Regions from separate parts of the Homo sapiens genome. Here region 1 is linked to region 2. Evidence: fine-mapped expression QTL. A gene starts in region 2. The other region holds a variant in brackets. All regions are shown on one strand. Distances are between the middles of the regions. Region 1 overlaps CACNA1B (calcium voltage-gated channel subunit alpha1 B). Region 2 holds the start of NELFB (negative elongation factor complex member B).

The links. PIP is the estimated chance that this variant, and not a neighbour inherited with it, causes the effect.
Region 1: its variant is the best candidate, but not a certain one, in a credible set for the expression of NELFB in naive CD8 T cells (Schmiedel 2018, PIP 0.56).

What each region holds. Positions count from the first base shown.
Region 1 is chr9:137,918,936-137,924,150 of GRCh38, reverse strand. The region is part of intron 6 of CACNA1B (calcium voltage-gated channel subunit alpha1 B); the gene reads right to left. Among named protein-coding and RNA genes, the nearest start is that of CACNA1B-AS1, 26 kb to the left of the region's middle. The variant A/G (reference allele first, on the strand shown) is at 2,011.
Region 2 is chr9:137,252,420-137,257,634 of GRCh38, reverse strand. It overlaps NELFB (negative elongation factor complex member B), which reads right to left and starts at 2,308. Exons shown (of 13, transcript NM_015456.5): 1 at 2,024-2,308; 2 at 1,565-1,728; 3 at 1,207-1,306; 4 at 581-811. The coding sequence starts at 2,269. STPG3 (sperm-tail PG-rich repeat containing 3) reads right to left here. Exons shown (of 6, transcript NM_001004353.4): 4 at 5,110-5,198; 5 at 4,670-4,973; 6 at 4,152-4,520. The coding sequence ends at 4,390. STPG3-AS1 (STPG3 antisense RNA 1) reads left to right here and starts at 4,138. Exons shown (of 4, transcript NR_038389.1): 1 at 4,138-4,472; 2 at 4,660-4,760; 3 at 5,129-5,215. It also overlaps a transcript of CIMIP2A not described here. RefSeq lists enhancers at 1,005-1,952, 1,953-2,900 and silencers at 1,911-1,970, 2,011-2,190, 2,201-2,570, 2,761-2,940.

The sequences.
Region 1 (5,215 bases), 670 kb before region 2:
CCAATCCACAAAAGGATAAATTGATAAACTGGACTCGATCAAATTTTAAAAACATTTGTTCCATGAAAGACCAGGTGAAAAGTATGAAAAGATAAGCTACTGACTAGGAGAAAATATTTGCAAACCATATATATGACAAAGAACCAGTTCCTAGAATATATAAAGAACAATTCAAACAGAACATGGGCAAAAGATGTGAAGAGACGTTTCACCAAAGATACACAGATGGCAAATAAGTCCAGAAAGATGCTCAACACCACTCACTGTTAGGACATGCGAATTAAAACCAGTGATGTGTCACTATACCCCTATCAGAATGGCTAAAATAAAAAAGTGTCACCACCAAACACTGGCCAGAATGCACAAAAACTGAACTATTCACACACCACTGGTGGAAATGTAAAAGAGTGTAGCCCTCTGGAAAAGCTTTGGTTTCTTAAAAAACTAAGCATGCAACTACTATACCTAGAAATTTGCACTCTTTGGCATTTATCCCAGAGAAATGAAAACTTATGTTTGCACAAAAATGTGTACAGCAACTCTATTCATAATAACCCCAAATTGGAAGCTTCCACAGGTGAACGGTTAAACAAGCCATGGTACAGCCATAGCACGGAATACTACCTGGCACCACGGAATACCACCTGGCACCAGGGAATACCACCTGGCACCACGGAATACTACCTGGCACCACGGAATACCACCTGGAGCCACGGAATACCACCTGGAGCCATGGAATACTACCTGGCACCACGGAATACCACCTGGTGCCACGGAATACCACCTGGAGCCACGGAATACTACCTGGCACCACGGAATACCACCTGGAGCCACGGAATACTACCTGGCACCATGGAATACCACCTGGCACCATGGAATACCACCTGGCACCACGGAATACCACCTGGCACCATGGAATACCACCTGGCACCACGGAATACCACCTGGCACCACGGAATACCACCTGGCACCACGGAATACTACCTGGCACCACAAATTGACACCTGGCACCACTCAATACTACCTGGCAGTAAAAGGAAACATGCTACCAACACCTGGGTGAACCTCCAGAGAATTTTGTTTGAGTGAAAGCAGCCAGTACCAAAAGGTTACATTTGGTGTGGTTTTGTCCACGTAACATTCTCAAAATGACTAAATTATAGATATGGCAAACAGATTAGTGGTTGCCGGGGATTAAGGAGGGGGCGAGGGCAGGAGAGATGCGGGTGTGACCACAAAAGGGCAGCAGGAGGGACCCCTGCAGGGATGGAGATGCTCTACGTCTTCACTGTGTCAACATCATTGATACTGATGTATCAACATCAATATCCTAACTGTGACCCTGACTATAGTTTTGCAGGTTGTCACCACTGGGAGAAAAGGGTAAAGGATGCATGAGCTATTTCTGTATTTCTCACTACTGCATGTGAATCTACAATTATCTTAAATTAAAAGTTTAATTTTTTAAAAGCCCATTCCCTTAACCCCTGTCTCCCTGCAGTTACTTCCCACTGCTCTGCTCCCTCCAAGAGTCATCTGCGGTTGCCACCCTGATTTCCTCACCTCCTCCTCCCTGTAACCCACGCATTCCAGGGCGTTGTCCCACCACTGAGACCGCCCTTGCCAAGTTTACCAACAACCTTCCTCTTATCAAACGCAACAGTCCGGGCTTCCCATCTTCCTTGACCTCCAGCAACATCTGGCCCAGCTGATCATGTTCTCCGAACGCTTTACTCTGCTCCCAGGATGCTGTGTGGTGTGGTGTTGATCATGTTCTCCGAACGCTTTACTCTGCTCCCAGGATGCTGTGTGATCGCGGTGCTGATCATGTTCTCCGAGCACTTTATTCTGCTCCCAGGATGCTGTGCGGTCGTGGTGCTGATCATGTTCTCCGAACGCTTTACTCTGCTCCCAGGATGCTTTGCGGTCGTGGTGCTGATCATGTTCTCCGAACGCTTTACTCTGCTCCCAGGATGCTGTGCGGTGTGGTGTTGATCATGTTCTCCGAGC[A/G]CTTTACTCTGCTCCCAGGATGCTGTGTGATCGCGGTGCTGATCATGTTCTCCGAACGCTTTACTCTGCTCCCAGGATGCTGTGCGGTCGTGGTGCTGATCATGTTCTCCGAATGCTTTATTCTGCTCCCAGGATGCTGTGCGGTCGCGGTGCTGATCGTGTTCTCCGAACACTTTACTCTGCTCCCAGGATGCTGTGCGGTCGTGGTGCTGACCATGTTCTCCGAACGCTTTACTCTGCTCCCAGGATGCTGCGCGGCTGCAGTGCTGATCATGTTCTCCAAACACTTTACTCTGCTCCCAGGATGCTGTGCGGTCGTGGTGCTGATCGTGTTCTCCGAACGCTTTACTCTGCTCCCAGGACGCTGTGTGATCGCGGTACTGATCGTGTTCTCCGAACGCTTTACTCTGCTCCCAGGATGCTGTGCGGTCGTGGTGCTGATCGTGTTCTCCGAACGCTTTACTCTGCTCCCAGGATGCTGTGCGGTCGTGGTGCTGATCAGGTTCTCCGAACGCTTTACTCTGCTCCCAGGATGCTGTGCGGTCGTGGTGTTGATCATGTTCTCCGAACGCTTTACTCTGCTCCCAGGATGCTGTGCGGTCACGGTGCTGATGGTGTTCTCCGAACGCTTTACTCTGCTCCCAGGATGCTGCGCGGCTGCAGTGCTGATCATGTTCTCCGAACACTTTACTCTGCTCCCAGGATGCTGTGCGGTCGTGGTGCTGACCATGTTCTCCGAACGCTTTACTCTGCTCCCAGGATGCTGCGCGGCCGTGGTGCTGACCATGTTCTCCGAACGCTTTACTCTGCTCCCAGGATGCTGCGCGGCCGTGGTGCTGACCATGTTCTCCGAACGCTTTACTCTGCTCCCGGGATGCTGTGTGGTCGTGGTGTTTTTCCTGCCCCCTTAAAAGCTCCAGCCCCATCTCTTTCGTGGCTCCTGCTTTCCTACTGGACCTCTGAGTGCTGGAATTCTCCCCAGTATCAGCCTTGGGCCTTCTTTTCTCCATCTGCACTTATTACCCAGGTGATCTCATCCTCTCACATAGTTTTAAACACTGTCCATGAGTCAAGTACTTCAAATGCTCATCAGCCTGCTGTTCCCTCTGAATTCCCTCTCAAACACCCACCTACACACCCAAGATCTCCACTTGTATGAAAATAGTTATCTAAAGTTTTGCAGAGCCAAAACAGAATCCTGGAGTTCCGCCACCACCCTCTGCTATAACAAAACTAAGTAAATTCGTGTCTCCCGATTCTCCCTTTCTTAGTAAATGGCATCACCTTTCTCAGTGCCTCAAGTCACATCATCGTTGAGACTTCTCCTTCTCTCACATCCACTCTATGAGCAAGGCCTGTTTGTGCTAGCATCAAAATGCAGCTATGGATCTGAACACTTTCAAACTTGGATCTTCACGGAACTAGTACAATGAACATAAGCAAAGCATACGTGCATAATCATAAAGCAACATGATTTACCTCCACTGCGCCTCCAAACATGGTCATTGGAGAAATCCTTCCCATGCCCCTAGATGATAATTTGGACAAGCCCATGACCATTCTGACAGCTCCTGGGTAAGGCGAAGTTCTACAGCCACTTTCAAGTGGAAAATACAGTTTCAACTCGGCAGTTGAAAGTGTTCAGGCCAGGTGTGGTGGCTCATGCCTGTCATCCCAGCACTTTGGGAGGCTGAGGCAGGTAGATCACTTGAGGTCAGGAGTTCAAGACCAGCCTGGCCAACATGGCGAAACCCTGTCTCCACTAAAAATACAAAAATTAGCTGGATGGGGTGGCTCGTGCCTGTAATCCCAGCTACTTAGGAGGCTGAGGCATGAGAATCACTTGAACCAAGGAGGCAGAGGTTGCAGTGAGCCAAAATCGTGCCATCGCATTCCAGCATGGGAGACAAAGCAAGACTCTGTCTCAAAAAAAAAAGAAAGTGTCCAGTCTCAGTCTCAGCTGGCCATCAAACTGACATGCTTCACCATGACAATACCCACTCTCGCTGGCTGGCCTGCCACAGCTGGTTGCTTTCAGTGGAAGAGAAAGACACGGCCCCTCTTTGCTCCCCTGTACCCAGCACTATCACAGCAGGGGAGGGAGAAGGGACAGCTGTTATTCCTCGTGCGGTGCTGTCCTGAGATGATCTCACCTCTCTGGACCTAACAGGAATTTACTGCCGACTCGTCTCTCCCCAGGCTCATCCGTGTGTTCTCCCAAAGCTCCATTTGACTCCGCCTGCTTTTCCAGGCACAGACAAAGCCATTTCTCCTCAAGCTGGAGTGCCCCCACGCTGCCCCACCCGCTGCCACCAGCTTTTCAGCAATCCACTCTGAGACCCCATCACTCACCCGGTCCTGGCTGCCCGCTGTTGCTCACACCCCCACTCCTGCTCCCAACACGGACTGAGCTTTCCATCTCTCTGCCTCCACCCCTACTGCAGGCCGTGGGCTTCCGCCCACAAAGAACCCAGATGTCATTGCTTGAAGGAGCGTATATCCGAGGGGCCACAAAAGTCCCTCTCACTGGGTTGGAGGTGAGGGGCGGGCTCTCGCTCTCTCCAAAGGATCCTCTTCAAAACTCCTGTCTAATCTCCAGTGACCGACCCTGTATGCCCTTAGTGTGGAGGAGCGGACTGGTCGGTTCTTGGCTACCTGCTCTGGGGCCTTGTGTGGCGCCAGCCCCAGGCACTGCCATGACTGCATCTTGCTGCCCCGGCCAAGCTTCCAAGGTGTTGTAGCATCTGCATGTCTGGTTTCTAGACCTCACCAGGCCTTGCCCTCCCAGTACCCTGTACCTCGTCACTGCCTGCTCCTCAACCTCTTCTGTTTTCTTCACGGCACTCGCCACTGTCCATGCCCTTACGTGTCGAATGCCTCTGCTCACCACTGTGTAAGCGGAGCCAGCACTCACTGGGTCCTACTGAAACACATGCTGGCTGAAACCTCTGTGGCCCCTCCTGGCCAGTGCTGCCTGCCCCAGGATGGGGCTCCTGCCCATCCCCTCCTGCGGGAGGCAGAGACCCAGGCAGAAGAATCTGAGTCATGTGCGGCCCCTGGCCAAGCCCCAGTGGACACTGAGGGCTGTGGAGACCTGGTCACACAGTCCTTCATTTGGGTGGGGCCAGCAGGAATGCAGCCAGCTCAGAGCTATTTTTAGGGTCTGTCTTTGTGGGAATTGTTCCTTGATTGGCTACAGAGAGAG
Region 2 (5,215 bases):
GCTACTCGGGAGGCTGAGGCAGGAGAATTGCTTGAACCTGGGAGGCGGAGGTCGCAGTGAGCCGAGATCACGCCATTGCACTCCAGCCTGGGCAACAATAGCGAAACTCCGTCTCAAAAAAAAAAAAAAAGAAAAAGAAAAAAAATTAGCCAGGCATGGTGGCGGGCGCCTGTAGTCCCAGCTACTCGGGAGACTGAGGCAGGAGAATGGAGTGAACCCGGGAGCTTGCAGTGAGCCGAGATCACACCACTGCACTCCAGCCTGGGCAACAGAGCGAGACTCCGTCTCAAAGAAAAAGAAAAAAAGTAGGGGAGGGGGGATTAACTTCACATGAGCGGGCTTTCCGCAGATTTTAAATGTTGTCCATATATCACTTTAACGAAAAGTAAAATGCAAACAGAAAAACAACCAACTTTCTTTCCAGCATGTGTACAAGCCAGCCCTCCCCCACCACCCAGCCAAGAAGCAGAACCACCCGATCATTCACAGGGCAGCAGAGTGCTGATCCCCAGGCAGCTGAAGGCGCTAGCCGTGGCATCCCCAAGAGGTGCCCCACCCCGCACACGGCCTGTCCCCTCACCTCGCCCTGGCGCCTGGTCTTGGGGGAAGGACTGAAAAAGTTGTGCAGGACAGAGAGCTCTGTACTGAAGAGAGCGCTCTCCTTCTCCAGGATGTACTGCTTCAGGAGTGGGGAAACCTCGTCCCCGAAGAGGGCCTGGTTGTCTTGCCAGATCTGCCGCTTCACCTCCACGGCGCAGGCTCGATACAGCTCCTTGTCAGCCATAACCAGCTTCAGTTTTTTCTCCGGAACCTACATGACACCACAGGCTGCCTGTGAGTGGCACCTGTGTCCCTGGGTCTCCTTCAAGACAAGCCAAGAGGCCTCAGCCCCGCAGAGACCACCTCGAGCTAAGCTCCACCCCACAGGGCACCTATGACTGGTTCCCCGGCCCCAGCATGTCAGACAGACATGCTAAATACCAACAGCTCTTTCCCAGGAGGGGCCCCACACCCTAACTCCAGTGCTAAGGTTCGGTCTCCACGCGGCTCATGTGGGAGAAGTCAGCACAGAGCTCACCATGGACAGCACTTGGGCAGGCAGCACAGGAAGCTCCCGGAGCTAGGCGGCCACCGGAACTTCCACTAACCAAGGGCATGAGAGTGGGCGGACGGTCCACGCCATCAGGGTTAGGGTTAGGGCCCTACCTTGGGCAGGTGCTTCATGACGCACATCACCACGGGCTGCAGGGACGGCATCTTCACCAGAGAAAAGCTCTTCTCCAGAAGGTCTTCCAGCTTCTTGTACCTGGAACAACTCACAGGATTGATGGTGCAGCGATGCGCCAAATCGCAGCAGCTACCTGCCTGTCCCTACACAGATAACAGCTACCAGGACAAGCCTCCACGCCCAGGACACATGGGTCAAGGGGTCACTCAGACACAGGCCCAGGCCACCTCTGGGAGCAAGGATGTGGAGCCAAAAGGACAATAAATGCCCCTGAGTCGATCCAAGGCTGAGAGGCCGGCTGCACATCTCACCTGCCCACCCCTCCCGCTGACCCACCTTTCCTCAGCCTTCCCCTCCGAAGCGATGGCTGACACTCGCTCCAGCAGCTTGTCCCGCAGCTCATCGAATACCGACTGGTGGAACTCCAGCCGCGGCGTCCCGTGCAGGTCCAAGAAGGGGAGGGCTGACTGAAGAGATGGCAGCAGCACACCATTCTCTGTCTGAGGAAGCCAAGAGAAACCTCAAACGCAGCCCAGTGCGCCCGGGCACCCCGAGGTCCTGAGAGCACAGGGAGGCACGCACCCAGGTGTTCCCAGCCGTGCTGGCGGTAACCGCAGCCACCGAAAGCCACCCAGCCGTCCAGCAAAGGGGTGCTGGCTCCGGACTCCACCCCCAGAACAGGACTCAGCCACCAGCAGAAAGCCGGAAAACTTCCGGCGCCTCCGCCAGGCCCGACTCCCGAGCAGGCGGCCCGGCCCTCCAACTGGGCTCCCCCCGCCCCGGGGGCCGCCCCACCTGGAACTGCTCGATGGCCTTGAGCGGCTCCGTGCAGTTGGTCAGGGTCTCCTTCAGGTCCTCGCCGTTGGCCACGCCCAGGTCCTGCAGCCCCGCGAACATGGCCGAGGCCCCGGCCACCGCCCGGCTAGGCGCCCCATCCCCAGCCCGTTCCCCCGGCGCCGCCGCAGACACCCCAGAAGCCCGCTCCGCCGGGCCTCGGGGACCGCCCGAGCCCCGCTCCCCGGCGCCCTCCAGCTCGGCCAGGTCCCGCCCGCCGCGCGACTCCGCGCGCGTCCCGCAGCCGCCCACTTCCGCCCCGCACCGCCCAGGTCCGCCCGCCAACCGGCCCCCGGGAAACGCCGCCGGGGCCGCGCGCAGGTTCCTGGGAGCAGCGCCCTCACCCGGCGCGAGAGACCCCGCCCAGCCAGCCCAGCGCGCATGCGCCCACCCGGTCCCGCCCGCGCCCGGGCTTTCTGGCAGAAGAGGGCGGGTGAGGGCGTGGGGGGCGGACTCAGGGTCCGTCTGCTCCGGGAACGGACGTCGTCGCAGCCGAGTGAATTTCGTGTACATAAGCGTGGAAAACGCTCTTGCAGATCTCGCGGCAGCCACGCGCAGCGGGGACGTTTTGCCGGGGGTTGAGCTCCCCGCCCCTCTGCCCCGCAGGGGCCGGACACAGGCGCAGACTCCCTCCTGAGCGTGGGTTCCTCCGCGTGAAACGGGCACGAAGCCCACCCCGGCGCTGTCGCCAAAACTGAGATCTGAGCGCCTTCAGGGGGCCGGGGCCTGGCGGAGACCGGGCCCGCAGCGGGAGCGCGAGCGACGGCCGCCCTCCCAGGCACCGGGAGGCTGTGGCGCCCACCGAGCTCCGCGGAGCCGTGAAGGAGAGTCCAGGTTCCACAGTGTCCCTTCTTATCCCAGGCGGGTGGGCTCCCCGGGCCTCCCCGCCTCTCCAGCCCGCCGCCCTCCCGCAGGCTGTGCCGCGCCAAGCCCCCTACACACACCCTCTCTCTTTTCGGTCTCCGCTGCTGAAATTTTCTCTAGAAATTTCTTTCCCGCTGCCCAGCAAACTCTTGCTCTTCCTTGAAGGCTTCTTCCTCCACCACCTCCTCCAGGAAGCCCTCCCTCCTCAGCCCAGCTGGAGGAGATCGCTCCATCTTTCCTGCCGCTCCCACTCCTAGCTTTGGGTCTCACCAGGGGTGCCTGGTGGTGCAGCCGTGAGCAGAGCTCCTGTTCCCACAAGCCGGGCCGAGCTCCCAAGGCCATGGCTACCACAGCTCTCTTGCCGCTGGCCAAGTTGGTCAGCCCTAGGGCGAGGGTTCCAGTGCCTTGATCCAACCCCCAGCTGGTTCGGTGGCAGAGGAGGACAAGGGTCACAGCACACACACAATCCTGAGCCTGGGATTCCTCTCTGAGAAAGGGGGTGGTGCTGAGGCCACAGAAGCAGCTGCCCAGAGCCTTTTTGAAGGGGTTGAGCTCTGGGCCTGGTCTGGGTCCTGGGTCTGGGGAGGACCTGGGGAGGTGCGGGTGACGGCACCGCAGGTAAGGCTCCTGCAAGGTGGCAGCCTTGGGGCCCGACCCTGGGTAGGAGGGCAGGCCAGTGATGACAAGGGAGGCCCCAGCCAGGCGAAGTTGCAGGCAGGGGCAGTGCAGGGTCCCAGCAGGTGAAGGCCCCGGGAGTGGAGTCTGCAGGGCCCTGGGCCAGAGTGTTCAGGGCACAGGTGACTAAGCCCAGCCAGGTCTTCAGCTCAAGGCCTAGGGGAAGTGGGGCTGGGCCCTGGTGAGCAGATCCCTGGGCCCTTCCTGAGGTCTGGCCAGGCCGACCCCACCTGGAGGTGGCGGCTCAGGGCATTTGACGCCTCCTTCCCAGTTCCCTGGCTCGGCAAGCAGCTGACCCTCAGGTGGACAGCAGCTAGACCAGGCCCCTGAGTGACACGGCTGGGTGGGGGTGTCCCACAGAGCCCACCTCCCATCTCGCTCCAGGCTAGAGCTCAGGGTCAGTCACAGGCTGCCACCCTAGAGAAGAGAGCACCTTTCAGGGGCAGCTGAATGGAGACCCCTCAACAGGGAAAGCCGGAAATGACCCAGCGGCAGCCATATCTCTAGGACCGCCCCCGGGTGAAGGACAGACAACTGCACACCACAGAGCTCGGGAAAACCAACAGCATCTCAGTGTAGCGGGGAGATGGGCAGATGGGGGATCCAGGCTGGGCCAGCCTTGTCCACAGCCCATAGAAGGGTTGGCCAGCCAGAAGGGTGCATCGGGGTGCCCAGAGGGTCAGAAGGCCAGGCTGGGGCCCCAAGTCCCAGGGGAGGCCTGGGAAAGCCCCGGGGGAGGCCATGGTTCCACTCGGTGGCCGGGCCAAGCAGGTTGTGCCCAGCTGGCTCTAGAGCGTGCAGAAGGGGCCTGTGTCGTGGCGCTTGGGTCTGCGTACACCCTGGATGACCACGCCAGGCGCCGAAGGGAAGCGTGAGTTGCAGTCCTCCACGTGGTAGGCGGCTGGGCCAGGGGTTCGGGCTGCCGAAAGAGAAGGCTGGGAGCCCCACCCAGGTAGCAGCCCCAACTCAAACCTGGCTCCCAGTTCCCACCCCCGGCCCCTGAACCCTTGTCCTCACATTGCCCACCCATGCCCCATCCCTAGCCCTCTTCTCTCCAGGCCTCCTTACAGGTGCTGAGCCAGGAGGTGAACGCAGGGGAGCGGCTCATCGAGAAGGCCGGCGAGCGGGGGCTCTGCAGGCGGCTCCCAGGAAGGATATTGTAGGTGTTGGGGCCAGGGCATCTCTTGCCAGGTGCCTGCAAAGAGGCCTGAAGCAGGGACTGGGGCTGCACCCTGAGGCCCAGCCCCCTAGCCCCAGGCAGCCCTAGGTGGGTGTGGCCTTCAGGTGTCTTGGAAGCGGAGTGGCAGCCTCTGAAGCTGAAGGCGGGGAAGGCGGGCCGGCTGAGCAGCTGGTAGTGGGCTGGCGAGGGCCACTGCGAGGGGGTAGGAGACGGGCTGCAGGGCAGGGTGCTCCCCACGGACCCTCAGCCAGCCCCCCTTTGGCCCCACTGGAACCCCCAGCCCCCTGCCTGCGTGGACTCCCCGCCCCCTTCCTGCCCAGCCCCCAACCTTTTGCTCTTGGTCGAAGTCAGCTTTCTGCGTGAAGGGGCTTTCGCTCTGGAACCACAAAGTCTGCCATGCCCTGCGGCCACCGCCCTCTGTAGTTGGAGGATGG